3 separate regions of the Homo sapiens genome follow, and all the other regions are linked to region 3. Evidence: fine-mapped QTL for protein levels in blood plasma. Region 3 holds a variant in brackets. A gene starts in each other region. All regions are shown on their forward strands. Region 1 holds the start of SERPINI2 (serpin family I member 2). Region 2 holds the start of KIRREL2 (kirre like nephrin family adhesion molecule 2). Region 3 holds the start of ARHGDIG (Rho GDP dissociation inhibitor gamma).

Evidence for each region. PIP is the chance, under the fine-mapping model, that this variant and not a neighbour inherited with it causes the effect. Protein levels are from antibody-based Olink assays in UK Biobank. Linkage for the fine-mapping came from a reference panel and not from the study's own genotypes, which makes the PIPs less certain.
Region 1: it holds the start of SERPINI2, and the variant in region 3 is fine-mapped to the plasma level of the SERPINI2 protein (UK Biobank, PIP above 0.99).
Region 2: KIRREL2 starts here. The variant in region 3 is fine-mapped to the plasma level of the KIRREL2 protein (UK Biobank, PIP above 0.99).

Annotation. Positions count from the first base shown.
Region 1 is chr3:167,472,305-167,480,572 of GRCh38, forward strand. SERPINI2 (serpin family I member 2) reads right to left here and starts at 1,738. Exons shown (of 9, transcript NM_006217.6): 1 at 1,699-1,738. WDR49 (WD repeat domain 49) reads right to left here. Exons shown (of 19, transcript NM_001366157.1): 19 at 6,380-6,692. The coding sequence ends at 6,574. LOC105374197 (a long non-coding RNA gene) reads left to right here. Exons shown (of 3, transcript XR_924683.3): 3 at 2,068-2,156.
Region 2 is chr19:35,851,806-35,859,499 of GRCh38, forward strand. It overlaps KIRREL2 (kirre like nephrin family adhesion molecule 2), which reads left to right and starts at 5,106. Exons shown (of 15, transcript NM_199180.4): 1 at 5,106-5,375; 2 at 5,540-5,689; 3 at 6,603-6,752; 4 at 6,899-7,059; 5 at 7,676-7,694. The coding sequence starts at 5,315. It overlaps NPHS1 (NPHS1 adhesion molecule, nephrin), which reads right to left and starts at 699. Exons shown (of 29, transcript NM_004646.4): 1 at 1-699. The coding sequence starts at 32. RefSeq lists an enhancer at 1-627.
Region 3 is chr16:278,375-286,642 of GRCh38, forward strand. ARHGDIG (Rho GDP dissociation inhibitor gamma) reads left to right here and starts at 2,217. Exons shown (of 6, transcript NM_001176.4): 1 at 2,217-2,379; 2 at 3,372-3,551; 3 at 3,651-3,734; 4 at 3,923-3,999; 5 at 4,093-4,156; 6 at 4,241-4,636. The coding sequence starts at 2,307. The coding sequence ends at 4,440. PDIA2 (protein disulfide isomerase family A member 2) reads left to right here and starts at 4,790. Exons shown (of 11, transcript NM_006849.4): 1 at 4,790-4,994; 2 at 6,013-6,219; 3 at 6,285-6,418; 4 at 6,504-6,641; 5 at 6,710-6,826; 6 at 6,938-7,063; 7 at 7,132-7,329; 8 at 7,979-8,099; 9 at 8,180-8,268. The coding sequence starts at 4,796. RefSeq lists an enhancer at 2,358-3,115. The variant T/C (reference allele first, on the strand shown) is at 4,764.

The sequences.
Region 1 (8,268 bases), not on the chromosome of region 3:
TATTAGAAAATTAATGTATTCTAAAGCAACTGAGTAATCTGGCTAACTTTTTACAATTTTCCTCACGCTTTATTTCTTAGGACAAAATAACCCAAAGCCCTCTTCCTGCTTTTCCAAAAGAAGACAAATACAATGCAGAAAACCTGCAAAGTTTGAAACAAAATGGCAATCAAATATAAATGATACAATAAAGTACTATGCTCACTACCTGGGTGATGAGATCATTTATACCCCAAACCTTAGTGTCAGGCCATATACCCATGTAGCAAACCTGCACATGTACATTAATCTGTAATAAAACTTGAAATTATAAAAGAAAAAATATAAATAAAATGAAATATAATATCAAAGAATTGACAGAAATACTAACAAATGTAAGAGTAGCAGCAATTAAAAACCATAAACAATTCACAAGACTAATAATACCCTATTAAAGTGCTCTCCACTAAAATTGCAGGAAATTCAACCATTTGATTATATCTCAAGCAGAATTAGTTTTGCAATATTACCACATATTTGGTAGAATGTTGACTCCAAGGCCTCATAAATTTTAGTAACAATAATTTTACCTTATAAATAATACATGTTAGTAATCCTTAAAAACTTATCCATCAGTAAGTTACTAGGAAGTAACCCTTAATTAGGGGTAAAGATGAAAGCCTTTAGAATAGTCTGTTGTCAGCCTTAAGTAGAGACTTACATTTCTAGAGTGTTTTGCAGATCATTAAGGGTACCATAAATGGTAGGAGTCCCTAAGAACAACTATATTTATATATAAAGATTACTAATAGTCAAATATTGTTCCAAATTAAACTATGGAGTCATTATTTATCCTTCAATGTATTTTGTTAAACTGTATTTGTTTAGATATATATTTGCAAAAGACAAAAGCCTCAAAAAACAATCCAAAGCAATTGTTAGAAAATGTGTTGGTAAACTTTAGATATAGACCTATATGCTATTAATATCAAGCAAATGTTTCATTAGGGATTAATTTAGCATATGAGCTTATAAATGAGAGTGCAACAATAGTTAAAAACCAGTGAGTAAGAGAAGTTTTACATGCAAAATAAATGTCTGTGTATCATTATCTTCTAATATATTCAATTTCTCAGAAGACTTCTGACCAAAATATGTGTTTGTAGATACGTAGTCAAAATGTTATTAGTACCTTTAAGTTATCAACTGGAAATACATTAGATATAGCTTTATGTATTTGGTTTATATTGGAATAATGAACAGTATTATTAAAAATGTAATTTTTTTCTTTGTGGTAGAATCTCAGTATTAGAGTTTCCTTCTCATTATTATTAATAATCTTAATAATTAAATTTATATTATTTGAGCATCCACATCCATTTTTTCTAGAAAATTTCTAAGCACTTAATAAATTATAACCTCAGACAAATATTGGTTTTAAAAACTCACTTACCTCATCAGGTTTTGGATCATATCTTATCAGAAAGCACAAAGTAATGCTGAACTAAACAACCTGATGAATAGTCCTATAAGAACTGGATCTTCTGATTTGTGGTGAAATCATTTAAGGAGAATAAAAGCGATATGTTAATTAAATAAATTCAAATGATTTTTACACCAAAGTAAATTGAAATGCCATTCCATACTCTACTAAACATTCATAGGCAATGTTATTGCATACATACTTATTCAAAAGCTATTTATTTCTAAGGTACTTACCCCAAACTGACTTCTGATTATTCACTGGAATGTTACAACTAAAATACGCTTGCTGGAAAACTCTTGTACATAAACACCTGAGCGATCAAGGCCAACTCCATTTATCTTGACCATTGCTTGATTAATTCCTCTAGAACAAAAGCAGGTGTTCACTACATTTGTATTAAGAACTAACACAATCGGGTTAATGATCAACTGATGAAATGTGCAAGAATTGAGAAAAAAACAATTATAGAATTTTTTAAAAGTATTAAATTTATATTATTATTTTATCCATTATTTTGCTTCTTTTAAAAGTTGCACAGAATTTGAAAGGATGCGCTACTGGTTGTAAATTTGCTAGTAATTAGTTCTTTTTGTTTCTCACAGGACTCCTACATCAGATTACCAATGCACTTTGTCATAAATATTTCAGAATGCCTATGAGAAAAAGAATAAAGCTAAATCAAGTCCAGAATACAGAGACAAATCACTGCTGCATTGACAGAGTTCTCAACATTCATCAAATTATACAATAGTCAGAGGAGTTTCCTGTGGATATAAGGTCCATTTGAATCCTTAAGAAAAAGAGTGGATATTGAAGAAATATGTTCTTTATTCTGAGCAGAAAGGCCAGCAAAAAAGATAATGGATTTGCCAAAATATATCAGGACAATACTATTAGCCATAGGTAATTGGATGATAAAAATTGCTGTTACCTTTATGTGCTTTTGAAACTCTACATGATTTTCTTTGCAAAAAGGTCATTAATAAAAAATTGCATAATTTAATGGGTTTCATCTCATTTTTGTAGTTCAAATCAATCACCTCAATGGCAATCAGATATTAAGCACATTGTATTATTTATCTATAGCCTTTGAGAAGAGAAAAAAAATTTAGTTCACTTTTAATTAAATATCTGTTGATCCCCAAATTTAATACTATTTCTGATAAACTCATGTAAAAGAAATAAAGTGAATATAGATAGCTTTAAATGGAATTCATTTTTAAAAACTTGTCAGAGGACCCTGTTAACATCTTTCCATGTCCTAACATGGCTATAACTTAAAAATAGGCCTGAGAATAGATCATTATAGGCCATAATCTACTAATTAACTAAAATTTTTTGATTTCCCATATAGGCATCTCCAAATGTTTTCTAGATCTTGAGTTTTATTCTAATATTACCTACTCTATCATAAGCACACTCTAGTGTAGCTTTAACTTAACACAGAGATAATTTTCCAAAAAGAGTTGTGCAATACAAGAATACTATCATTCTACTTGCTTCACACTGCAATACATAAATATTAAGTCTGAATGTCAAGACTATCATTCAATCAATGCTTTTCTACCCATTTACTGACACCAGCAAACATATATCACCAGTACCCTTGGCTACCACATCATTATGTCTGTACACTGCTCAGATCACAATGTGATTTATCCAGAAATAGTCCATTACTTTTCCTACCAATGGCAGAGACCGTCACTCTGTCCTACTAAGACCATTTAATGAAATTGTTCTGTAAGGACCTTATATTAGAGCAGTTCAGGCAGAATGTTCATTTTCCTGTCTCTTGAGGAGTAAAAAGCAATAGCCATAAATTTATTCTCCCTGGTTTAACCTCTTTTAATAGACAATGACGACAATACAATTGTCCATAAAATATTACCACAAATTTTTAAAATATTTTCCCAAACCGCTTTTTTCTACAATTCTATTTTGCTCCTAGAAAATCGGGGTGGGGGGAGAATTATTCATTAATGAGAGCCAACGTGTCTTGGTAGAAGGTTGATCGCCATTACTGTCCGACTGTAAAGTATAAGCCTAGGAATATATATAAAAACCACAGCAAAGGGTTACAGTTATCATCTCATCAATTTTCTTATCCTTTTATAGTTTTTTCAAGTAAAAGTGCACTTAATTCCAAACTTTAAAAATGTATAAGCAAATGCCCTCATCAGTAAAGAACTTAAAAGTTAATTCTTCCATTTAAGCATGGACTCATTTCAGGCAATTTTTTTTGGTAAGATTGTTCCTAAATTTTGAGTGATAATAGGAAAATGTTCTGACAAAAGAAAATGTTAAATTATATTTAGTGTAAATATAAGTAATACAAACAAGGTAGCCTATTGAAAATTATGACATATCCTATTTTAATGTGACCAATTCCTTTTACCACAGAAAAATGGATCATAAGTAATTGAATCTGAATGTTAATTTCAGAAACAGTTTATAATGCCTTCAGTTCTGTTAAGAGTTGACAGGTGAGATCCTGCTACCTGCCTAGAAAATTAGATGCTGTGAGTTACAAAAGAAGAGTAAGACACAGAAAAAAAGACATTGTCTTTTTTCTTCTTTTTGTGTTTTTTCTCCAAATTATTAGAAACAGTTACCTTGAAAGTCTCATACCTTTAAAAGTTCTCTTCTCATTGAATATATTTATGAGACAGCTCTTCTTAATTCCTTTTACAGAAGAAGCCCTGATGTTAATTAAGGATGGAATTAGAGTTACAGCATAATACCATGCACATGTAGTAGGCTATAGAGAGAAGGTCTGTCTGTATGAACCAGACTATCTCAGGCTATCACATCAAACAAAGTTATCTTCAAGGGTAAACAGTAAAGTATATCTAGCAAAAGAATTCCCAAATTAGACTGGAAAAAATATGCCAGATTATGAATTTCCAACTTATGCCAGTGGGCTCATTTAGTATTGGCTTAATAAACCACTACATTTTATATAGCTTCACTTCAGAACGCTGAGGGTAGAAAAGGTGCATTCTATTTATATGTGAATACCCGGAACCTAAAATAATCTCTTATACATGCCTTCAATACTTACATGAGGGATGGACGGATCAGTGGGGAAAAGAGCCTTTGCAAATTATTTGGTACCCGCATTCTACTTTTATAACATCTTAACATTCCATTAAATTTCTGGGCATGTGGCTCAGATTTCACTCCATTGTACTATCACCAACCTATGATTCATAAATCATGTGCTCTGAGTTTGAAATGATGGATTACCCAGTCAAACCTCCTACCCAGTGCAAGAAGTCTTTGCAATATCCCCGTGAGACAGTTACCCAGTGTCTGCTTGAACATCTCAAATAATCTTTTTGTTCAAAAGCAACTTTTTATATTTTAAAAAAATTTACCTTGAAATACTTTCAAATTTACATAAAAGTTGCAGATATAGTTCAAAGAACTGCTATCTCCACCTCCTCCTCTTTCCCCAATTGTTAGCATCTACCGCATGTGTGTGTTTCATCTATGTATCTATCCTCCCAATAAGCAAACAGATGTAAATATAGATATGTATATGTGTTACCTGTGTGTGCATATATATACATTTTATATATACATATAATTAGTATTTTCTGAATCATTTTATAGCAAGCTAAAAACATAATTTCTATCATACTTAAACATTCTATTATTATATTTTTCTAAAACAAGGACACTTCTTGTACATCATCACACCACCCAACAGACAAACACACACGCACACACACACAGAGACAAATATACTTTTCTCCTACAATCTTTCCTGCATGTAATTTTCATTCCATGAGGAGGAAAGGCGATATGAATAGAAGTCATAATGCCTAACTCAGAATACACTTAAATGTAGTTAGAATAGGCAGCTGTCTTCTGAAAGTCCTTCCATCACCGCCTTCTCCACCAAACCAAAATATTTGCTCCACTGGTGCTGGAAAGTCTAGTGTTAGAATTCATTCCATTGGCTTTATACTAATAAGAAGCAAGTGTACAGAATGATGAATGGCAAATACCATGGTTTGGGAGTAAAACAGACCTGGGTTCCAATCTCAACTCTGCCATTGATAATTGAGCACTCTCCTAATAGATTCGCATCTCATATTTTAGCTCTAAGCTAATATATTCATATGATTATTGTGTGGTTTAAACACAATGGACATTTGCAGTTGCTATACCAAGTGGTCCCCTACCTATTGCAAATTATTTTCCTTTACTACATGTGTTATTGAAAAATTCTTCTTAAACTTTAGCTGGTTTTGAAAGCACTCTTTAAAATATAAATATACAGTAAGTCATTATAGTTATGTAAATGAATTTACCAATTCTTTCTATAGGACACAATAAATAAAGCAGAATAATAATATTGCCTGGAAGATGATTATATTTGTAAATAAAAATGGGTCAACAAACAGAGGCAGTAAGTTAAAGAACCAAATATTTCCCACTTGACTTTCCACATAGAGTGGGTCCTTTATATAGCCCCAGGCCCTTTGATTTTTTTTCAAGACTATTACATCTTCAATGTGCTATGGCATTCAATTTTAAAGTACAGTATAACAAACTATTGAAGTAGATCATATGCAGTAATTTTCCAATAAGTTTATAGAATGAATAAAAGCCAATAAGAATTAACAGGAAGTGGTGCTATTGACAAAGTCTAATCACCATTATGAGAATCATTTAAAAACTACTAGAAAGTGTAAAAAAGTGGAAACAGTTTTCTTATTCACATTTGTAGATATTTACTCCGTCAGTACTTTTCATATATTTCAATGCAGGTTTTACAATGAAAACTGATCAAAAGTGTTTGTCTATAGGAACAACCAGAAGGGCAACTGGTTAGAACTTTGTTCTGGAATCATAAAGTTTTTATATAAAAATCCTTGAGAATAAATACCAAGATGTTGCTCCCACTTTAGTTCAATATTTATTTTATTAAGAATACAGAGAAATTGACAGATGATAGATAAAAGCAGTACTAAATTATCCCATGAAGAGAAAACTTCCTGAAGTTTAAATATAAAATAAAATAAAAGGCAGAATTCTTGATGCTTTTTCTGCATTTTATATCTGTACCTTATGTAACAGTGAAGGTTTTTCTGTTGTAATTACTTCTTATTTTTCTTCACTTCACAACTTTTTTCTTGGCATAATTGCTTGGCTTTTCGTTCATGATGCAGAATTTCCTTGGGAAACAGGTTTTTCTCATCAAATACAGCTTTCAAAGCTACAAAATGATGAGGAAAATCACAAGTGAATTATATTTGTTAAGAGACCTATTTAAATGAAATAGTGGGGAGAAAATTCTCAAATTTTGCTTTTTCTAAAAATCTTTGTTTCTAAAACACAGAGTGTATTTGGAAAAATTTTCTCTAAGCTTCTGCTATTCTGTTTACTGCAATTTACATCTAAAAGTTAAATTTTGGTAGAGTTTGTTCTTTTAATGCATATATCTTAATAGAAATCCACCATTCTAAGGGTAGAGGATTATAGAAGTTCCTGTTTTCCATTTTTGTTTTTTAATCTACTTAACAGCTATCAAGACATAAAGAGCCAAGAAAAAATTATTCTGTATTGAAATAAGGCAATTAAAATAGTCAAAACACAGTTTGACTGTCTGCATGAATAAACAAGCGCATCTATAATCACGTCCATAGGGGTTTGCAGTTTTAGGAAAAAAAAGAACCAAATTATTTCCATGAGTGGTTATATTGCGCATCAGTGAGAAGTAGGAGGAAATTGTGCCATACATTCTAGAAAATAATTTTGGCATTTTGCATAATTTTATTATTTAAACAAATGCTTATTGAATGTCTATTATACACAATGTTCTGTGTTGAGGCATAAATGAGGCACAAATATGACTAAGTCACAACCTTTCTTCCAATTGGTGGAAACTAGAAGCAGTACCCAAATAACCAAAACATCATATACAATAAGATATCATTCCAAGAGAATATAAGCAATGCAAACTGTGTATAAACATGTAAAAGATATTATAACAATATATAAAGATTTTTTAAAAAGCTTTAAGAATTAGGTACTTATTTGAGGTAGGTCTTGAATTCCAGATAGGACTTTAATTGAGAATAAGAAACATGGAGGTGGGGAAGAATTGGCAAGGGTTGGATAGGAAGTGTCAACTGGAGGAAACAAGGTGAATAAAGCATGGAAAAAAAGGCCGGGCACGGTGGCTCACGCCTATAATCCCAGCAATTTGGGAGGCCGAGGCAGGTGAATTGCCTGAGGTCAGGAGTTCGAGACTAGCCTGGCCAATTTAGTGAAACCCCGTCTCTACCAAAAATACAAAAAAATAAGCCAGGCATGGTGGCAGGCGCCTGTAATCTCAGCTACTCGGGAGGCCAGCTACTCGGGAGGCTGAGGTAGGAGAATTGCTTGAACCCAGGAGGCAGAGTTTGCAGTGAGCCGAGATCAAGCCATCGCACTCCAGCCCAAGCAACAGAGAGAGACTCTGTCTAAAAAAAAAAAAAAAAAAAAAAAAGGAAAAATAATAACTACTATTAGAATAACTCTGAATAATTCAGTACAATTTAAAAGAAGCATAAAATATGTGAAAGAAAGTAAAGTGGAATAAATTTGGAGCTGGACCTAGGAACACTTTAAACACCAACCAAAGCATATGAAATTAAAAAGTAAACATTGAATGACTTTACAGTATAGTGGCATCTTTATATATTTGGATTAAACACAAAACGAAACAAAAACTTTCCACTTCCAGTGTAAACTATACTGTAGAGAGGAAGTTATATAGACCTTGGCTACAAAAGTCAAGATCTTTCCTC
Region 2 (7,694 bases), not on the chromosome of region 3:
AGAGAAGCCCTGAGCGTCGTCCCCAGGGCCATCACAGGTCCCCCTACTGTGACCCCCACAGCGCCCGCTGCCAGCCACCTGCGTCTGTCTGGCTTTCTCTGGGTCCCTCTCTGTGTGTCTCTGCCACCTGCTTTTCTTTTTTATCTCTTTCCGTTACTCTCCTCCCTTTCTCGTTTTCCTCTTCCCCTCTTCCCTGTGAGTATCTCTCTCTGTCTTGCTCTCAGTCTCAATCTCTGAGTCTCTTTCTCTGTCTCTTTAAAAAAACTTTTTTTTCTTTTTTCTTTTTTTTTTCTTTTTTTTTTTTTTAGAGACGGGGTCTCACTATGTTGGCCAGGTTGATCTCAGACTCTTTCCTTCAAGCCATCCTCCCACCTTGGCCTCCCCAAGTGTTGGGATTACAGGCGTGAGCCACTGCGCCCAGTCTCTTTATCTTTCCATCTTTCTCTCCTTGTCTAAGCCGTTCTCTCTCCTTTTGTCTCTGTCTCTTCCTCTCTCTCTGTCTCTCTCTCTCTCTCTCTCTCAATCTCTATCTTCTCTCCTGCCACCCCTCACTCCTGCTCCTTGTCTCACTACTCACAGCCTTTCAAGAAGGACCTGCAGCCCAGAGTCCAGCAGGCCAGGAGCCTAGGAGAGCGATGAGGCTGATGCAGGCACTGGCAGAGTCAGCCCTGCTCTCTGACCCAGCTTGAGCTCATTCTCACAGTGCAACCTCCCCCAGGTACCTTCCAGAGCCCCCAGCTCTGGCCTCTGCCCAGCAGGCTCCTCCCAGCTGGCCCAGCTGGAGCATAAAATCCCCTGTCAGCACATGCCAGGCGCGTTCCTCGGTGCCTCCCCAGCCTCCGTGACCCCAGGGCCTGGCTTAGGCTGGGAAGATGGGAGAAGTCAGATCAAGGTGGTCTCCCAGCTCAGCAGGGGAGCAGCCAGCTGGGCCCCCAGCTCTTCCTTGCCCTGATACATGACCTTGGCAAGTCTCTTTCTTTCTTTCTTTCTTTTCTTGAGATAGTCTTGCTCTGTTGCTCAGGCTGGAGTGCAGTGGCATCTCGGCTCACTGCAACTTCCACCTCCCATGGCTTGAACCTCCCAGGTTCAAGTAATTCTCCCACCTCTGTCTCCCAAGTAGCTGGTGCTACAGGTATATAGCACCATGCCTGGCTAATTTTTGTATTTTTACTAGAGACGGGGTTTCATCATGTTGGCCACGCTGGTCTCGAACTCCTGACCTCAGGTGATCCATCTGCCTCAGCCTCCCAAAATGCTGGGATTACAGACATGAGCCACCGCACCTGGCCTCCCTTCCTTTTTTAGTAGACATCAGTGCCTAAATGATGTCAGGGATCTCTGCTGGGGAGGATGCAAGAGTGAGTGTGACAGGCTGGGAGAGTGTGGGAGAGAGGGAAGATATGCATGTGTGTACGTGGGTGTGAGAGTGGGGAAGGTTAGAGTGAACTGCGATCTGTAATAAGCATGTGGAGAGCGTGTGTGTGACAGTGTCTTACGTGGGAGTGCACAGGGTGTGGGCGGGAGTAAAAGGCAGAGTCCAATTCCACCGGCCCCCAGTGTGGGTGCAGTGTGAGCCCAAAGTGGGCGCCCTTTGGCAAGGACTGCATGAGCTTTCTTCTCCCTCTTTTTCTTGCCCTCTCTCCCATCTCTTCTTTCCTTCTCCATGTCTCTCTCTCTCCCTCCCTCTATCTATCTTGATTTATCTTTCTTTCTTTTGAGATGGAATCTTGCTCTGTTGCCCAGGCTGGAGGGCAGTGGCATGATCTTGGTTCATTGCAGCCTCAACTTCCTGGGCTCAGGTGATCCTCCTGCCTCAGCCTCCTGAATAGCTGGGACTACAGGTGCACACCACCACTCCAGCTAATTTTTTAAAATTTGTTTGTAGAGACAGGGTCTTTCTCTATTGCCCAGGCTGGAGTGCAGTGGTGTGATCATGGCTCATTGAAGCCTCAAACCTCCTAGGCTCAAGTGTTCTTTCTGCCTCAGCCTCCTGAGTAGCTGGGACTACAGGCCCGCATCACCACTCTGGCTATTTTTTTTTTTTTTTTTTTTTTTTTGAGAGGGAGTCTTGCTCTGTCACCCAGGCTGGAGTGCAATGGTGCGATGTTGGCTCACTGTAACCTCCGCCTCCCAGGTCCAAGCGATTCTCCTGCCTCAGCCTCCTGAGTAGCTGGGAATACAGGCATTGACCACCACACCCAGCTAATTTTTGTATTTTTAGTAGAGACGGGGTTTCGCCATGTTGGCCAGGCAGGTCTCGAACTCCTGACCTCAGGTAACCCACCTGCCTTGGCCCCCCAAAGTGCTGGGATTACAGGTGGGAGCCGCTGCACCCCGCCACTTGGCTAATTTTTTTTAAATGTTTTTGCAGAGACAGAGTCTTGCTATATTGCCCAGGCTTGTCTGGAACTCCTGGGCTCAAGCAATCCTCCCATCTCGGCCTCCCAAAGTACTAGGATTACAGGCATGAGCCACCGCACCTGGCCCTTGATTTATCTTTCTTTTTTTTCTTTTTTCTCTTTTTTCTTTTTTTGAGATGGAGTTTCACTCTTGTTGCCCAGACTGGAGTGTAATAGTGTGATCTCGGCTCACTGCAACCTCTGCCTCCCGGGTTCAGGCGATTCTCCTGCCTCAGCCTCCCTAGTAGCTGGGATTACAGGCATGCGCCACCACGCCTGGCTAATTTTTTGTATTTTTAGTAAAGACGGGGTTTCTCCATGTTGATCAGGCTGGTCTCGAACTCCTGACCTCAGGTGATCAGCCTGACTCGGCCTCCCAAAGTGCTGGGATTGCAGGCGTGAGTCATTGTGCCCAGCTGATTTATCTTTCTATCTTTCTCCATCTGTTTGAGACTCTCTCGCTCTCTATATTAAGTTGTTAAATCTCAGTCAATCTTTATTTCACTGTGTCTCTCCATCTCTATATGTCTCTGTTATTCTGTTTCTCTGTCTCTGTTCTCACCTCTGTCGCTCCCCTCACCCCACAGTCTGTCTCACACACACCAGGAGCTCCATAAATATTTGTTCTCAGCCACACTCTGACCACGCCTCTTTCTCTTATGTGTCTCTCCATCTCCGAGTGGCTCTGCTCATCACATCCCTGGATTTTATAACCATATGCTGGTGGGCCTGCCCTCCCCGCGTGCACATACACTTGCCTGGGATAAGCTTCTTCTGCCTGCTTATCTCCTGCGGGAATTGGAAATGCTAGTTTTCTCCCTACCTCCCCAAGACCCCCGCCAATATCGTTCCCAGGAACAAGATGAGGCATCTGGCCTCAGCCCCCAGCTTCATCCTCGATGCTGGACTTCCATCTTCCCTCACATGCTTGACTCCTTGCCCTCCTCCCACCTCCCCTCTCCCAACTGCTCTCTACACCCCCTGGGAAATGGGCTGGATGCCGAGCTGGGGGAGTGGCTCTGTCCTGGGGGCCCTCGCCAGATGGTGTCCCTAGGTGCCAGAGCGTGGAGCTGTCCCTTGCTGGGGCCTTTAATAAGCACAAACCTTCCACCCTCCACCTTGGCTGTTTTCCTTCTCTGCATGCTCCTGGGACCTTGGGCTCTCCATCTTTCCATGTCCGTAGCCCCAGAGAGCCAGGAAGGGGAAGCGGCGTCAAGTGCCTGGAAAAACAGCCCCATGACTTGAGTTCCTCCCTAAGACTCAGGAGTTCCAGCCCCATGTCCATCCTATTTCAAAATCCAGGCACTAGATAAGCCACACAGAAGCCGGGAGTGTAGGCCCCCAGATCCCTCCCCTCTCAGACCCTGGGGTCTCAGTCCCTTCTCTCCAAGGACTCGGGAATTTGGGCCTCTGATCCTCCTGGCCACACTACCCACCCCCGCACCTCCCCATACACACACACACACACACACACACACACACACACACACACACACACACACATACACACAGGACTTAGGACAGATGTTCACGGTCTGATTTCCAAATCCTCCTGGGCCTGTGTGGGGGTGGGGAGAGATTGGCAGATAGATCCACCGACTCTTAAGACTTAAGACCAGATATTCTGACCCCTGTCACCCTCTTCCAAGTGCACCATGCACTTGAGTGCACCTTGAGTCTCCAGCCTCTCAAGGAACCGGGAGATCAGGCCATCAGCGTCTCAGCCAGCAAAGGCCTGAACCACCAGTCCCTTATAACCCTGTAAGTCCAACCCCCACTCCCAACCCCACTCCCCCATTTAGGGACACGGAGTCTGAGCCTAAGAACAGTGGAGAATCTGAATGTGGACCCTCCAGTTCTTACAGGTCCAGGAATGTCAGATCAGGGTCCCAGCCCCCCAGCCCTCCTTCAGGCTGCTCGGGGTCCCTCCCACCTGCTCGGCCAGCTGCGCAGCGTGGGAACGCCCCAGCTGGGCTGCATGGAGCCGTCAGGACAAGCTGCGCGGTTCCCAGCCTCCCTGCCTGCCCCGGCCCGGCACCGCCGCCTCCCAGCCGTCGCCGGGCAACCAGGCCGAGGGGCCCGGCCGGCCGAGTGGGGAGAGGGGTTGGGCTGGGACTGCGGGGTCCTGGGAAAGGAGGGGCCGAGGGCCTGGATTCCTGGGTCTTAGGACGTGCTGTAGTTTGCAGCAATAACAAGGGAACAGAGGGATATTTTGAGGAGGGGTTTTGAGGCTGGGGGAGTCGAGGTAGGGGTCCCAACTGTCCCCCAGGTATCGGTGTGCCCTCTTCCCGACACGCAGGCCCGGGGGAGCCCCGGACCCCGCATCCCCCAGGGCGCGGAAACTGGCGAGGCCCCAGGAGCTCCCATTTATAGCTCAGTTTCCACTGAGCGCAGTCCCTCTAGGACCTGGGCTGAGCAAGTTTCTTCCACTCTCTCCCTTCCCTCCTCCTCACCCCTTGCCTGCCCCTCAACCCCGGCAGGGCGCAGGTGTCCAACCCAGCCGGGACCCCCTCCCTCCTCGAACCCAGGTGTTCCGGCTCCCAGACCCCAATTGAGCTGGGGGCGCCCACCCGCCGGGGGATCCCGCCCTGCGTCCCCCATTCATCCGCGTCTCAGCCGCGGGAGTTTCTCAACGGGAAGAGGGCGGAGCTCCCGGGGGGCGGACCCGGGCGGGGCGAGCGGGATCGGGCCCTCTTGGGGTCTCCCAGAGACCCAGGCCGCGGAACTGGCAGGCGTTTCAGAGCGTCAGAGGCTGCGGATGAGCAGACTTGGAGGACTCCAGGCCAGAGACTAGGCTGGGCGAAGAGTCGAGCGTGAAGGGGGCTCCGGGCCAGGGTGACAGGAGGCGTGCTTGAGAGGAAGAAGTTGACGGGAAGGCCAGTGCGACGGCAAATCTCGTGAACCTTGGGGGACGAATGCTCAGGATGCGGGTCCCCGCCCTCCTCGTCCTCCTCTTCTGCTTCAGAGGGAGAGCAGGTACCGCACGAGGGGAGCGGAGGAATATGGGGTGGGGGTGGGGAGTTGCTTGCGGGCTGCCTCTTCACTAGCGAGAAGGGAGCTGGGGGCTGGGACTCCTGGGTCCTGAATGAGGAGGCCCCTGAAGGTGCTAAGCTCAGCCCTGCTGCCCCGAACTCTCCTAGGCCCGTCGCCCCATTTCCTGCAACAGCCAGAGGACCTGGTGGTGCTGCTGGGGGAGGAAGCCCGGCTGCCGTGTGCTCTGGGCGCCTACTGGGGGCTAGTTCAGTGGACTAAGAGTGGGCTGGCCCTAGGGGGCCAAAGGGACCTACCAGGTAAGAGTGTTCTCTCCACGCTGGGACGGGCTGGCTAGGGGGAGAGTTGCTGGGCTCGGCTGTACCTGCAGTTTCTATTTTGACATTTTCAAGTTTGGGAAATTGATGGGCTCGGGTAAACATTTAGGAGTCCTGATTTTTGAGCTGCTTCTTTGGGGGTGACCCACGGAGTTTGGGAATTATTATGTTATTGCAAAATAGTACATAGGCCAGGTGCAGTGGCTCACGCCTGTAATCCCAACGCTTTGGGAGGTTGAGGCCAGAGGATCGCTTGAAACCAGGAGTTTGAGACCAGCCTGGGCAACATAACAAGACCTTATCTCTACACAAATGTATATATATATTTTAAACAAATTAGCCGGGTATGGTGGTGTGCATCTATAGTCCCAGTTACTCAGGAGGCTTAGGTGGTAGGATTGCTTGAGCCTAGGAGTTCAAGGCTGCAGTGAGCCATGATCAAGCCACTGCACTTCAGGCAATGGTGAGACCCTGTCTCAAAAAAAAAAAAAAAAGAGAACATAAATGCAAAAAAGTACAGTAAATATAAATGGAAGATTTACCAAATAAAATAGACACACACAGCCAATACCCAAGTCCATTGCTAGCTCCCCAGAAGACCCCGTGTTCCTTTCCCCTATCATAGCCCCCTCCCCCTCACTCCAGAAGTAGTATCTAACCTAATTTTTATGGCAATCATTTTCTTGCTTTCCTTCCTGACTTTATTACCCCTAAGTTTGCAGTGACTCTGGGTTGGGAGGGAGTTAGAGTCTCTCTGGGCCCAGTACACACTTTTTAATAGTGTCTTACCACCAAATGTGTGGGCCAGTTTTCTGGTGGAGGATGTCTGGGGATGGAGGCCTGAGGCCAGGATTTCAGAACCATGGTGTGCTGACTGCCTTCTCCCTGACTCCAGGGTGGTCCCGGTACTGGATATCAGGGAATGCAGCCAATGGCCAGCATGACCTCCACATTAGGCCCGTGGAGCTAGAGGATGAAGCATCATATGAATGTCAGGCTACACAAGCAGGCCTCCGCTCCAGACCAGCCCAACTGCACGTGCTGGGTAAGGACCTCGCCCACTTGTCCCCTGGGAGCCCAAGAGGGCAGCCCGTACTAGCTGTGAGTAGCAGAGCCCAGGGAGCCCAGGGGCATGGTCAATTGGAGCTGAGAAGATCAGGATCCATCTCTGACCCCAAATCCACCTTGCAGTCCCCCCAGAAGCCCCCCAGGTGCTGGGCGGCCCCTCTGTGTCTCTGGTTGCTGGAGTTCCTGCGAACCTGACATGTCGGAGCCGTGGGGATGCCCGCCCTACCCCTGAATTGCTGTGGTTCCGAGATGGGGTCCTGTTGGATGGAGCCACCTTCCATCAGGTCAGGTCCAAATTCCTGTGCTAGCCTTTGCCCATTGAGGGAAACTTGGGTTACACTCTGACCACAGGCTCATCCAGAAGAGAAGAAGACATGGGAGGGCAGAGGTTCATGGGTTTGGACTCTTGAAATATGATGCAGGGTAAAGATTCTAGGGCCAGACTACCTGGGTTCAAATTATGTCTCAGCCACTTGCTAGTTGATTGATCTTGAGTAAGTTAGTTAACCTCTCTGTGCCTCAGTTGCCTTATCTATACAATCAGGATAATAGTAGCATGCATGTCATAGGGTATTGTGAGAATTAAATAAATAAATACCTATAAATGCCCAGAAGAGTGACCAATACATAGTGAGCACTATATAAGTAAGGCAAGCTTGTCCAACCTGCGGCCCATGGGCTGCATGCAGCCCAGGATGGCTTTGAATGTGGCCCACCACAAATTCATAAACTTTCTTAAAACATTATGAGACTTTTTTGTAATTTTTTAGCTCATCAGCTATCATTAGTGTTAGTATGTGTGGCCTAAGACAATTCTTCTTCCAATGTGGCCCAGGAAAGCCAAAAGATTGGACACCCCTGATGGGTAGATGGCATTATTATTCTTATCCTTCCCTCCAGACCCTGCTGAAGGAAGGGA
Region 3 (8,268 bases):
TCGCTTATCCCTGTCTGTAAGGGCCTCAGTTTCTTGCTGTGTTGCCTAGGCTGGCTGATCTTGAACTCCTGGCCTCAAGTGATCCTCCTGCCTCAGCCTCCCAAATGTTGGGATTACAGGCATGAGCCATGGCACCTGGCTATGTATTTATTTTTTGAGAGATGGCAGTCTCATTCTGTCACCCAGGCTGGAGTGCAGTGGTGCAATCATAAACTCATTGCAGCCTCAAACTCCTGAGCTCAAGTGATTCTCCCACCCCAGCGTCCTGAGTAGCTGGGACTACAGATGTGTACCACCGCATCTGGTCTATTTCTGCTTTCTTGGAGGCAGAGTACCTCTCCCCATCCTTACCCACTCAGAGGGTGCTAGGGGCTGGGCAGGGTGGGCGGTTGGCCTTGGGCTGGGAGCCCCTAACATAGTGGTCTGAGTCCATTTCCATTGCCGGAGAGGCCACGTTCAGCATGAGCTGGGGCAGGGGGCTTGTGGGGTCTCTTACTCCAGGGTACCATCTCGCTTGGATCCCAGTGAGCCCTCCCATGCCCCACACCCAGGTGGGGTGAGGTGGCCCAGGTCTGGCTGCCCTGTCTGCAGGGGTGGGCACCCATGGTAGCTGTGAGGCAGAATAGGGAATGAGGGTAGCCAAGGGTTGGGCATAAGAAACGGAACAGCAGGTGCAGCCAGTTCTAGGCAGGATTGGGCAGCTCACAAGCCACATCCTGGCTGCTGTGATAACAAGACAGAAATTTCCACTTCACCTCTGATTGGTCTCGGGCCAATCCTTCATAGGGTGTAGCCAATTGGAGGCCTCTAAAGGGCACAAGGGCTGTGGTCAGGTTTCTTTGCTTAATAAAAATCCTAATTACAGAGGCTCTGGAGCTACTTGCTCCAGCCCACTCCCACTCTGTGAATTGCCTTCCGTTAAATCTGTGCTTTCCTTACTCCGTTCTTCTGACTCAGTTTTGTTTCCTTGTGTTTCGTTGTTCTTTTGTTACTTTGTGCGTTTTGTTCAATTCTTTGTTCAACCCACCAAGAACCTGGACAACTCACCTCCAAGACCTTCTATCTGGTAACAGCTGCAGGAGCTGGAGCTGTGGGCCTGGGGACAAGTGTCCTAACAGCCCCCGCTCCCTGCAGCGAAGGGTCAGCAGAGGTGGCGCTCTAGGGGGGCCTGGGCACAAGTTCATAGGATCCTGCCCTGGAAAGGTTGTGGGCAGTTGGGGGGCAAGGGAGACAGTCCCCACCCAAACCCCAATGCCCCCTAGCACCCAAGGTGGTCTTCTCTCAATTGAGGAGCTCTTTGGCAAGGGCGGGTCTAATTTCTGGTGTCCCTGGAACCGGCCAGGGGTGTCTAAGAAAGGGACTCAGGCTGGTGTTCGGACCCCTTCTCCCTTATCCAGACGCAGGCCTTTGGTCCAGCTGTCCCAGCCAGGGCCTGCTCACCCCTGTCCCCTGCCGGGTCCCATCCCCCCCACCCACCCACAGGTCTCAGTTTAGGTGTCAATATCAGAAGCCCCCTCTGTGCTCCGGTCTCTGTACTCCGCCCCCTTGTCAGTGTCCTCTCCCTGAGGACAGGGGGCTCGGTAACTGGGTTTCCAAGAGCCCTGCAGGGACACCCCCTCTTGGGAACTCACACAGCGCAGCCAGGTCGCTAAGCCTTTGAGGGGCCCTTGTTGCCTCCTGGGTGTGCGTGCGACCCGCGCCCACTGTGGTCCCGCCCTACTGATGACCGTGAACCTGTAGGGTGTTGGGCCAGCCCCTCACCCCAAGGCTGGGCAGGCCCCCGGAGTCCCCCTCGGCCCAGACAGAAGCTCCCTCAGGAGCGGGGGAGGGGAAGGGGGCGCGCGGTCCGGCCCCAGGTGTGGCCGCGGATAATGAGACCCTGGGGATGGGGGCGCACCTGCGCCACGGCGCCCCGCAGAGGGTTTCCCAGGAGACCCCCTCGGGCTCCCGCCGCGCCGTGGGGGTGGGGCAGCCCTGCTGGCCAGAGCCGGGCACGGGCCGGGCGGGCGGCGGGGATCGTGACCGCGGCTGCGTGCGTCCGCGTCCGGGCGCTTCTGTGCGGGGTCCTGGCACGCCGGCGGGGGCGACCCGGGTGCCGGCCCGTGCGGGCGACACGCGCGTCTCTGCGGGGCTGCGCGGGGTCCGGAGCGGCTGGGGGCTCTCTGCCGGGCGCGGCTGGGCGCGGGGGGCGCTCCCGGCCGGGATGAGCTCACCGCAGTCGCGCCGGGGCTGAGCGCCGAGCGGGGCGGCGGCGGGGCGGGCGGCGGCTCCTCGGCGGCTCCGCGGCGCCCGGGCCGCGCGCCGCCATGCTGGGCCTGGACGCGTGCGAGCTGGGGGCGCAGCTGCTGGAGCTGCTCCGGCTGGCGCTGTGCGCCCGAGGTGAGCGGGCCGGGCAGGGGCGGGGGGCTCGGCTGGTCTCAGCCCCGGGCGGGGAGTAGCCCCTCCCCCGCGGCAACTTTGGGGGCGCGCATGGGGACCTCGCGGCGCCGACCCCCCGGCTGGGGTCTGGCAGGGGTGGGGGACTTCATCCAGGCTCCAGCCCTGTGGGGAAGGGACCAGGTGCGGACGGGTCGGCTTGGGAAGCGGCGGCGCTGGGACCCTCTCCCCCTGGACACCGCCGCCTGGAGCCCCTCTGTCTTGGGTGGGGCTGGGGCTGGGGCTCAGGCTCTGTAGGGCGTGTGGTGATCCCCGAGAAGACGGGAGCGAAGTGGGCAGGGACTCAGAAACCCCTGCCCAGGGCACCAGGGAGAGGGGCTTCAGGAGGCCACCAGCCCGGGGCGCCATGGGAGGCGGCGCAGAGCCTGAGCCCAGGGATTTGGAGACAGCCGCCCCCGGCACCCGAGCACCATGGGGAGGAACTCCTAGACTGTGGGAAAGTGTTCAGAGACCCCAGTCCAGAGCAGGGTGGTGGAGGGCCCTAGAGGGTCAGTAGGCTTGGGGGGCCGCCGAGGGCCCTAGAGGGTCAGTAGGTTTGGGGGCCGCCGAGGGCCCTAGAGGGTCAGTAGGTTTGGGGGCCGCCGAGGGCCGCTGCTCTCTAGCAGGTAGCCCCTGACCCTGGGCTGCCCTCATCTGAAGTCTTCGCTCCCCCGCCCTTTGGTCTCCGAGTCAGGGAGGGGGCCCTTGTGGACATCTGGGCCAGAGGAGCTGCAGGCCTGGCGGTCTCTGGAGGCCCCTCCTGAAGGTCTGGGTGCGGTGCGGCACCTCCCCAGGCCGCCCTGCTCTCTCTGCTCGCTCTCTCCCTGAGCCCCCAGAGGCTTCCCTTGAGTCCCTTTGGATAGTGGGAGGTACAGCTGGCCAGAGGGGGCTCCAGCCTGGTGCTCGAATGCCAGGGTCCGCTAGTGGCTGCTGCTCACGCCCCTCCCCACCCCCAGTCCTCCTGGCTGACAAGGAGGGTGGGCCGCCGGCAGTGGACGAGGTGTTGGATGAGGCTGTGCCCGAGTACCGGGCGCCGGGGAGGAAGAGCCTCTTGGAGATCCGGCAGCTGGACCCGGACGACAGGAGCCTGGCCAAGTACAAGCGGGTGCTGCTGGGGCCCCTGCCACCGGCCGTGGGTATGGCAGGGGTCTAGGCTTGGAGGGCTGGGTCTGGGGGGCTGGTGAGGAGCCTGGTGGGGGTGGGGGGCATCCTGCAGACTTCCAGTTTCTCCTCAGACCCAAGCCTGCCCAATGTGCAGGTGACCAGGCTGACACTCCTGTCGGAACAGGCTCCGGGGCCCGTCGTCATGGATCTCACAGGTAACTCGCAGGATGCTGCACCCTGAACACAGGTAGGGCCCTCCCAGGCACGCTTCTGCACCCCTGAGTTCCGAGCCCTGGGCCATCACAGTCGCACACCTCATGGGTACCACACCCTACGTGGGGGCTCCTGGAGCAGGTCTCAGCCTGTAGGGGAGTTCCGACCCTAGCTGAGGTTTCCCCAATAGGGGACCTGGCTGTTCTGAAGGACCAGGTGTTTGTCCTGAAGGAAGGTGTTGATTACAGAGTGAAGATCTCCTTCAAGGTGAGAGCCGGGGCAATGGGCGGAGGGGATGGGGGTGGGGGCAACAGCCAGAGGCCTGGCCCCCAGAGGAACCCCTAATGCCTCTGTTCCCAGGTCCACAGGGAGATTGTCAGCGGCCTCAAGTGTCTGCACCACACCTACCGCCGGGGCCTGCGCGGTGAGGGCAGCGGTGGGGGGAACGGGGCGGGGGGGGGAAGCGGGGGCAGACAGAGGACAGCTCTGATGCCCTCGCCCTCCCTAGTGGACAAGACCGTCTACATGGTGGGCAGCTATGGCCCGAGCGCCCAGGAGTATGAGTTTGTGACTCCGGTGGAGGAAGCGCCGAGGGGTGCGCTGGTGCGGGGCCCCTATCTGGTGGTGTCCCTCTTCACCGACGATGACAGGACGCACCACCTGTCCTGGGAGTGGGGTCTCTGCATCTGCCAGGACTGGAAGGACTGAACCCCCAGTCCGTGTCTCCCCTACCTCCCTCAGTTGTTGCACAGGGACCCCCAAGCATCCCCAGCACCCCCCGTGAGTGACCAGACCCTCCCCTGCTGCCCCTGCTGCCCCTGCTGCCCCTGCTCTGTCCCGGGACCCCCTGGCCTGGCGCTGTCCCCTGAGCTGTCCCATTAAACATGGCCCTGTCTCTCTCGGTGCCCTGGGTGTCGTCTCTTTCTGCCTCCCCTCCCCTGGGGGCCGGGGGCGGCCGCATGGGCCTTGTCTTTGCTGGGACTGGGCCTGTGTGCCACGTGGCAGCTGCTGCTTGGCTTCTGGCCCCCTTA[T/C]CTGCCCCCGCCCCACGCGCCCTGGCAGCACCATGAGCCGCCAGCTTCTGCCTGTACTGCTGCTGCTGCTGCTCAGGGCTTCGTGCCCATGGGGTCAGGAACAGGGAGCGAGGAGCCCCTCGGAGGAGCCTCCAGAGGAGGAAATCCCCAAGGAGGATGGGATCTTGGTGCTGAGCCGCCACACCCTGGGCCTGGCCCTGCGGGAGCACCCTGCCCTGCTGGTGGAATTCTGTGAGTGCTGGGGCCAGTGGGGCTGGGGACCGGCGGGGGACCGGCAGAGCCCACCTGGGGGCCCCACCCTTTGCCGGCAAATGCAGGGCATGTGCCCAAGAGGGGCCTCCCCGCAGGCACTTGCCCCCACTGTGCCCAGGAGCTCTCTAGGAGGGGCCTGGGGGTCTGGTTGGGGCAGGCAGGAGCAGTGTGGTAGTACTGGGGGTACCCACAGGACTTGAGAACACCTGTGCCTCCCTGCTCGGCCAGCGGCCACGGTGCCAGAGTCACCACCTTGCCGGCCACTCCTCCAGCTGCCAGGGGCATCCCACAGACTCTGCAGAGGCTCGGGCAGTATCCAGGCTTTGGGGGCCCATGGAGGTCCCTGACGTGTGTGCCCTGTGGTCTTTTCGCAACCCTTGACACACATAGGAACTGTTCTTGCCTAGGAGGCCTTCACAGGCAGCCACATGGGCCCGGGAGCCCCAGCCATACAAGGCACGAAAGGGAGGGGTCTTTTTATTTTTATTTTTTGAGATGGAGTTTTGCTTTTGTCGCCCAGGCTGGAGTGCAGTGGCCCTATCTCGGCTCACTGCAACCTCCGCCTCCCAGGTTCAAGCAATTCTCCTGCCTCAGCCTCCCGAGTAGCTGGGATTATAGGCATACGCAACCAATCCCGGCTAATATTTTTTGTATTTTTAGTAGAGATGGGGTTTCTCCATGTTGGTCAGGCTGGTCTCGAACTCCCAACCTCAGGTGATATGCCCGCCTCTGCCTCCCAAAGTGCTGGGATTACTGGCGTGAGCCACTGAGCCTGGCTGTGGGGGGAGGGGGGGTGGTCTTTCAAGCTCTCCCAAGCCTTACTGGTCCCTGTGCTGCAGCCTGGGGGGCCACGAAGAGGCACTGGTGCTCGGCTTGTCCACGGCCAGGGCTCAGGGCAGAATGGAGCAGCACGCTTGTTCCCTGCTGGGTTGTCAGGTGTGGAGAGGGTGCTCCTGGGGTTGTGGTGGCCTGGGGCACTCACGGCCCCATCCCCCAGATGCCCCGTGGTGTGGGCACTGCCAGGCCCTGGCCCCCGAGTACAGCAAGGCAGCTGCCGTGCTCGCGGCCGAGTCAATGGTGGTCACGCTGGCCAAGGTGGATGGGCCCGCGCAGCGCGAGCTGGCTGAGGAGTTTGGTGTGACGGAGTACCCTACGCTCAAGTTCTTCCGCAATGGGAACCGCACGCACCCGGAGGAGTACACAGGTGAGGGGCAGGCCGGTCATTGGGGGGGCGGTGGCCAGGCCGAGGCTGAGGGGGACTCCCTGCAGGACCACGGGACGCTGAGGGCATTGCCGAGTGGCTGCGACGGCGGGTGGGGCCCAGTGCCATGCGGCTGGAGGACGAGGCGGCCGCCCAGGCGCTGATCGGTGGCCGGGACCTAGTGGTCATTGGCTTCTTCCAGGTGAGCCACTGGGCATGGGGGGCCGGGCCATGAGGGCAGTGACTGTGGGTGGGACCGGGTGGCCTCACAGGGCCAGGCCCCTCAGGACCTGCAGGACGAGGACGTGGCCACCTTCTTGGCCTTGGCCCAGGACGCCCTGGACATGACCTTTGGCCTCACAGACCGGCCGCGGCTCTTTCAGCAGTTTGGCCTCACCAAGGACACTGTGGTTCTCTTCAAGAAGGTAGGTCAGGCCCAGGTGTGGGTTGGGGTCCGGCTGCAGCGCCCGCTAACCCACCTGCTGCTGTCCAGTTTGATGAGGGGCGGGCAGACTTCCCCGTGGACGAGGAGCTTGGCCTGGACCTGGGGGATCTGTCGCGCTTCCTGGTCACACACAGCATGCGCCTGGTCACGGAGTTCAACAGCCAGGTGCGTAGGCTGCAGTGCCTGGGCTGGGGGTGTCCCAGGGTAGAGTCGTCCAGGGATGGGGGTGCCTAGGCTGGGGGTCCTGTGGAGTCATGAGCACCCTCCCTACTGTAGACGTCTGCCAAGATCTTCGCGGCCAGGATCCTCAACCACCTGCTGCTGTTTGTCAACCAGACGCTGGCTGCGCACCGGGAGCTCCTAGCGGGCTTTGGGGAGGCAGCTCCCCGCTTCCGGGGGCAGGTACTGGGGGGCTGGGGGAAAGGGGCAGCGGGAGAGTGGCCGGTGCCAGCATGGACTCCCTGCCACAGGTGCTGTTCGTGGTGGTGGACGTGGCGGCCGACAATGAGCACGTGCTGCAGTACTTTGGACTCAAGGCTGAGGCAGCCCCCACTCTGCGCTTGGTCAACCTTGAAACCACTAAGAAGTATGCGCCTGTGGATGGGGGCCCTGTCACCGCAGCGTCCATCACTGCTTTCTGCCATGCAGTCCTCAACGGCCAAGTCAAGGTCCGCTGCAGACTGCTCATAATGGAAGGGGAACCCTGACCTCATCCCACCAGCTTGGCAGGGGGTGGGAACAGCAGCTCTCAGAGCCCCCTGCCCCTGCAGGCCCCGCAGAGGCCCCCCTCAACCCGGCAATTCTCCCAACCCGGCGGTTCTCCCAACCCCAACCCGGCGGTTCTCCCAACCCCAAACCCGCGGTTCTCCCAACCCCAACCCCGCGGTTCTCCCAACCCCAACCCCAACCCCAACCCCAACCCCGCGGTTCTCCCAACCCCGCGGTTCTCCCAACCCCGCGGTTCTCCCAACCCCAACCCCGCGGTTCTCCAACCCCGCGGTTCTCCCAACCCCAACCTCAACCCCAACCCCACAGAGGTCCCTCCCCCCACCAAACCCCACAGTTCTCCCTCCCCCCACTAAACCCCACAGTTCTCCCAAACTTGAAGAGGACCTCCCTGTCAGGCCCTGCAGAGGATCTCCCCCCCACCTGCCCCCGGCCCCGCACAGGACCTCCCCCCCACCGCCCCCCCCACACAGAACCTCCCCCTGCCGCTGACCCCGCACAGGACCTCCCCCCCACCCCCCAGGCCCTGCACAGGACCTCCTGAACCCTGCAGAGGACCCCTGGCAAAGCGCCTGTCCTGGTTTCCCCCAGCCCTATCTCCTGAGCCAGGAGATACCCCCTGATTGGGATCAGCGGCCAGTTAAGACCCTCGTGGGCAAGAATTTTGAGCAGGTGGCTTTTGACGAAACCAAGAATGTGTTTGTCAAGTTCTGTGAGTGTTGAGGGAGGCAGGGGTGGTGTGGGCTGGGCAGGGGCTGCCCAGATGGCTGTGCTCAACGGCTCCCATCCTAGATGCCCCGTGGTGCACCCACTGCAAGGAGATGGCCCCTGCCTGGGAGGCATTGGCTGAGAAGTACCAAGACCACGAGGACATCATCATT